2 separate regions of the Homo sapiens genome follow, and region 2 is linked to region 1. Evidence: fine-mapped expression QTL. A gene starts in region 1. The other region holds a variant in brackets. All regions are shown on one strand. Distances are between the middles of the regions.

Region 1 (2,908 bases):
TGTGTGTCTCTCTGAGAAGTCTCCCCCAGGAGGTAAAAGACCCAAGGGGCTGACCCCTAAGCTGTTCAGCTTACATTTAAGGAAGAAAAACAATCTGCCTGCACTTTTCTTAGAATTTAGGGAAAAAATGAGAATTTAAAATTCAATTTCATGTATCAGAGTTCTCCAGAATACAGCCAAGTGTAAAGAACTTAGTCCCAAATGAAAAAGTTGAACAGAAATTCTGCTCTCACTCGTTTTGCCGGCTTGGAGGTCAGACTGGAGGTGTCCTGAACTAGAACCAGAGCATAGGTTCTGACCCAAGAAGGACACTGTCTACTTCCCAGGCATCCCTCCTTGGCTGGGAGGAGAGGGGAGGATGAGTCCGTTGGAAGCTGAGAATTGTGGAAGCTGGAGATGGGAGTTCTGAGATGGAGGAGGCAGGCGCGTGAAGGAGGTCAGGGAAAGGCAAGTAAATCTACTAACCATTGAAGTTTATAAAATAAAAACCTTAAAAATGGTTTAACATGCAAAAGGTTAAATTTTAAAAAGAGGCCAGGTTTTAAAGAAGGTAAAATACCTCAAATTTAAACAAATAAAAACGAGGAAAATACACAAAACATTTCAAGCAAATTGTTCTTCAGAAGAGGAGAGGTTGGAATTAATCAAAAGACCTTTTTTACACACACACACCCCCCAAGAGTTTCCCAAACAATAAATTCATTTACAAAACAAAAAGAGGAATCAACGCAAAACCTCATCCACACACAGAGGAAAATAAATTGTGGTGATTCTGTAACAGCTGAAAAACTAGTGAGGGAGGAGAAAAATGAATAAACTCTAAATCTATTAGGTGATATTTATAAATAGCAAAATTGGAGGATGGAATGGAGAAAGGAGTTGAACTTATCATTAAAGAAGTAACACATGTGAAAACATAAGGTGTAACTCATCCCCAAAGAAAAGTAAACTCTCCATAAAGTAGCAAGTATACAAATTTATTGAAAAGGAAGAAAGTACCACTCACCCCCCCCAATATAAGTGTATTAATTTGAATTAAAATTTTCTCCAAATCCAAGATAGGTTACACAAAAGAATACAAACATATTTTTTTTCTTTCAACTAAGAGGAAAAACAAAATCCGATTTAAATTCACGAATGGGACAGGAAGGGAGGCTGTGGTTTGCAGGTGCTAGTAAACGGGGTGAGGGTTGTGAAGAGTTTGAGGGGTAGAGGACCAGCTTACCTCGCTTTGGAGCCGCGGCGGCCAACAGGAGTGGGCCAAGGACCCTGCCAGTGCCTGAGTGATAGGGGAAATAAGGAATAGGGGATTCGGGTGCCCCTAGACGAATGAGGAGGATGGAAAGACTGGGGGTGCCCATCTCCCCTCCTCTGCCCGCCTCCCTCCCTCCGGTACCCAGGCCTAGAGAGCTACTGAAAGTTACAAATTGCTTCCATTATTAGCTCATCCCGGGCGGCCTGGTCATTGGCCAGCCCCTGGCCACGTGGTCCCTCGTACCAATCGATCGAATTCTAGTCGCAATTCTCTGTCTGTCCCTCGGCTCTGGGGAGAAAGGGGGGGCTGTGGCGTGGGGGCTGAGGAGGGGCTAAGGCGGGAGGGGCGCCTCATCCCTTCACCCTCCCTTTTCGCCATGTGGGGGCCCTGAGCGCCGCCCCAGAAGAGGTCGAGGGAATGTTGTGGGCTGGGGCACACCAGCACGGCAGAAACTGGAGAAAGCGAGAGACGTCGCCAGGGACCCAGGGACCTCTCCCTCCAGTTCCCCGGGCCCGCCCGGCCCTGATGGCCACTCACGCTATAGCGCCCACTCTGTCCTGGGCCATCCCGCGCCAGCAGTGTAGCCCCCAGCCCGGGCGCCTGAATGCTCTCCCTCCGGATCGCTGCTCGGGTCCCCACTTTGGCGACCGTGCCCCCGAGTCCTGCTTCCCCGGGGCCTGCTCTGTATCAGGCGCCTGCGCCTTCAAGGGTACCCGGCCCGCCTGCCCTCCCCAAGAGCCGAGTTTGCGCTCCTCCCGGAATCGTTTGAGAGAAGGACAAACTTTTGGCAGGATGGAAATCTAGATGAGCCTGTCCGGAGCAGGTAAGCTGGGCCCGGGACGGGTGCGATTCAGCCCGAGAACAATCTGTCTCTCCCCGTCCCGGTCTCTCCCTCCCCTTACCCCTGTTTCCCCTGCAGGCTGACATATTAATCTGCCTTCCCCCGGGAGAAATTTGGGCTGGGGTTGGGCTTCTGTCAGATGCATGGGGTCAGAGCAGCTTTCCTCCCCGAGTTTAGGGACTAAGGTGGTAGCTGGCAGGGGAGGGGGAGGGTTGCTTCCGAAACTGAGGATTGAGGGGAGGGTTAGGGGCCGAGAAACCCAGAGTCTGAGGGAGACGACTTCTTTCCTCAAACGCAACTTGGGGGAACTTCGGAAAAGTTTTTTGAGGGGAGATGGAGAAGGGAGCGGAGTTGGGGTTTCGAGGGCTAAAGTGGGAGAGAGGGTGCTCCGCTTCCCGTACTGAAGGAAGGATGTGTGTGCTTATTCCCCAGTCGGGACCGATTACCAGCCTAGAAAAACCCAGCCGCGTCCCAAACCCGCTCACCCCAGCAGGCCCTTAGAGACGCTTGGAGATCCCCAGACACGCCCCGCGGAAAGGGAAGGAAATGCCAGCCCGAGTTGCCGACTCTGCCGGGACGGGGCGGGGGATCCGCCCAGAGCGGTCCCCTGCTGTCCTGGGCCCTTACGTTGATTCTAAGTTAGGAGTGATCTGAGAGAGGGAATAACTCCCAAAAATCTTTTTTTTTTTTTTCTGAATCCAATTTGAGTCAGAGACCCATTTCCTTGAGATGGAGCCAAGCGAGTGCCCCCTCCCGCCTCCAGCACAATCTCCCGCTCTTCTCCAGTTCCCAAAGGAGGGCAAGGAAAAGGC
Region 2 (2,908 bases), 51 kb after region 1:
AAAAAGACAGAGATAAAAGGCCGGGGCCAGGCACAGTGGCTCACGCCTGTAATCCCAGCACTTTGGGAGGCCAAGGCAGGCACATCACCTGAGGTCAGGAGTTCAAGACCGGCCTGACCAACATGGAAAAACCCCATCTCTACTAAAAATACAAAATTAGCCAGGCATGTTGGCACATGCCTGTAATCCCAGCTACTCAGGAGGCTGAGGCAGGAGAATCGCTTGAACCCGGGAGGCAGAAGTTGTGGTGAGCCAAGATCACACCATTGCACTCCAACCTGGGAAACAAGAGCAAAACTCCATCTAAAAAAAAAAAAGGCTGGGCATGGTGCCTCATGCCTGTAATCCCAGCACTTTAGGAGGCTAAGGTGGGAGGATTGCTTGAGTTCAGGAGATAGAGACCAGCCTGGGCAACATAGTGAAACCCCGTCTCTACAAAAAATTAGCCAGGTGTGGTGGTGCATGCCTATAGTCCCAGCTACTCGGGAGGCTGAGGTGGGAGGACACCTGAGCCCAGGAAGTCAAGGCTGCAGTGAGCCATGATCATGCCACTGCACTCCAGCCTGGGAAAGAGAAGAAGATCCTGTCCCCCCCCAAAAAAAAAGGCCGGGCACGGTGGCTCATGCCTGTGATCCCAGCACTTTGGGAGGCCGAGACGGGCGGATCACAAGGTCAGGAGATTAAGACCATCCTGGCTAACACGGTGAAACCCCGTCTCTACTAAAAATACAAAAAAATTAGCCGGGCGTGGTAGCGGGCGCCTGTAGTCCCAGCTACTCAGGAGGCTGAGGCAGGAGAATGGCGTGAACCCGGGAAGCGGAGCTTGCAGTGAGCCGAGATCGCGCCACTGCACTCCAGCCTGGGCGACAGAGCAAGACTCCGTGTCAAAAAAATAAAAACTAAAAAAAAAAAAAAAAAAAGAGGTAAGAAAATTCTCTTTCTTCACCAACACAATCTATCCCTCAGAAGCTCAGAAGCATCCCCACCCCAAGCACACCCTTGGTCTCCACCAAGTTGAGTTTGTGTGTTTTGGGGTGGGACCTCCATCATTCCTCTGAATCAGAACTTGAAATACCATCACTAGGCAAAAAGAACAAACTCTAGAGAAACTAGTGTTTCTGGATGGCACACGGGTAGCTTTCCCAGACCAGATTCATGCATTACTTCCATGTCTGCTCTGAATACCTACTTTGTGCCAGGTGTGGGATTACATACTGGGAAAAGAAAAAGGAGACCCTGGCCTTTGCCTTCAAGACACTCAGGACACTCCTGCCTGAACCTTGGCTGCATATTGGTAGCATGGAGAGATTCTGTTGAAGACGGATAGCAGGATGCCCCTCGCACCTCACAAATCAAAATATCTTAAGTGGAGCTGAGACACTTGTTTTTTTAAACCTCCACCGGTTAATTCGGATTCACTGGCAGGGTTGTAAGCCACTGATCTCTAGATCAGTGTTGTCTAACACAAATTTCTGTGATAATGGAAATGTTCAATTTCTGTGTCATCCAATCAGTAGTCACTAGCCATGTGTGGCTATTGAGCACTTGAAATATGAACTGAAGAA[T/C]TGAATTTTTTTCCTTAATCACTTTGAACTAAAACAGCCACACATGGCTAGTGGCTACTGTATTGGTCTACAAAAGTCTAGATGACACCAAATTATTTCAGTTTGGCTTTAGAATAATTCTCACAATGCTGTTTTATAGCAACTAAAGGCTCCATTCTCTACCACTCAGAGAAAAAAAAAAAACAATGACTTTCCTTTCCCTAAGGACACTCTCATTTGCACTGAAGAAACTGCTCTAGAATGAAGGGTAAAAGCCAGTCTGATGAGACTAAGTCTGATCAGCTACCTAAGCCCCTAGACCAGCTTCCAATCCTCCAGACTGGAAAAAAGGCACTCCTAAGTACCCTAGTTTGTTTATGGTTGACATTGGTTGGGGACAAAAAAAGCAGTGACATGACTTTGTGTGCCTGTTATAGACTGAATTATGCCCCCCTGCCGATTTGTATGTTGAAGCCCCAATATGACTATATTGGATATAGGGCATTTAAAGAGGCACCTAAGGTTAAATTGGGTAATAAGGGGGGACCTAATCCAGTACAACTGGTATCCTTCCAAGAAGAGAAACACCAGGGAGGTACATGCTCAGAAAAGGCTATGGGAGGACACAGCAAGAAGGCAGCTATCTGCAAGCTAAGGAGAGGCCTCAGGAAAGATCAAACCATCTTGATCCTGGACTTAACGGGCTCCAGAAGTGTCAGAAATTTCTGTTGTTTTAATCCACCCAGTCTGTGGTAGTTTTGTCATGGCAGCCCTAGCAGTGTAATACAGTGTCCTTAGGGAAAGGCAGGCCCAGGACCTTAATCAACCTCTCCGACAAGATGCACCCCAGGAATTGAAAGCAACAGCCCCACTAGGACCCAGACCCAGCAGCGACTCTGCCATACCCAGGCCTTCAAGTCATTCTGGTCACTACTGTTCAAGTGCCTCTGTGTATTACCCAATCCTATCCCACTATCTCATCACCTAGAGACCCCAACTCTAGGCTTTCAACCAGACCTGCTATGCCCCTAGATGTCCTCCCTATAGACTCATCCCCTCTCTTCCCATCCCTTTCCCCACTGCACCCACACTGCCTCCTACATGGTTTGCCCCTTCATCTCCTTCTATGGGTTTCCACCTATTGTTGGGTATTTTCAGTGTGTGTGTTCTGTGCATCTCACTTCCCCCACTACACTTTAAATTCTCAAAGATTATTCTAGCATTCAAGACCCTTCACAGGCTAGCTTCAATCTACCTCTTCATCTTTTTCTCCAAACTGGGCCAAGCCAATAGGAATCTACTTGTGTGTTGGTAAATATTAACTGTCAACTTGATTAATGGATGCAAAGTACTGTTTCTGGGTA

What was found. PIP is the estimated chance that this variant, and not a neighbour inherited with it, causes the effect.
Region 2: its variant is the best candidate, but not a certain one, in a credible set for the expression of LINC02381 in left ventricle (GTEx, PIP 0.63).

The regions. Positions count from the first base shown.
Region 1 is chr12:54,124,535-54,127,442 of GRCh38, forward strand. It overlaps LINC02381 (long intergenic non-protein coding RNA 2381), which reads left to right and starts at 1,537. Exons shown (of 2, transcript NR_026656.1): 1 at 1,537-2,078. It overlaps FAM242C (family with sequence similarity 242 member C), which reads right to left and starts at 1,861. Exons shown (of 3, transcript NR_170197.1): 1 at 1,793-1,861; 2 at 1,226-1,279. RefSeq lists enhancers at 1,911-2,544, 2,545-2,908.
Region 2 is chr12:54,175,921-54,178,828 of GRCh38, forward strand. It overlaps a transcript of SMUG1 not described here. Among named protein-coding and RNA genes, the nearest start is that of SMUG1, 12 kb to the right of the region's middle. The variant T/C (reference allele first, on the strand shown) is at 1,566.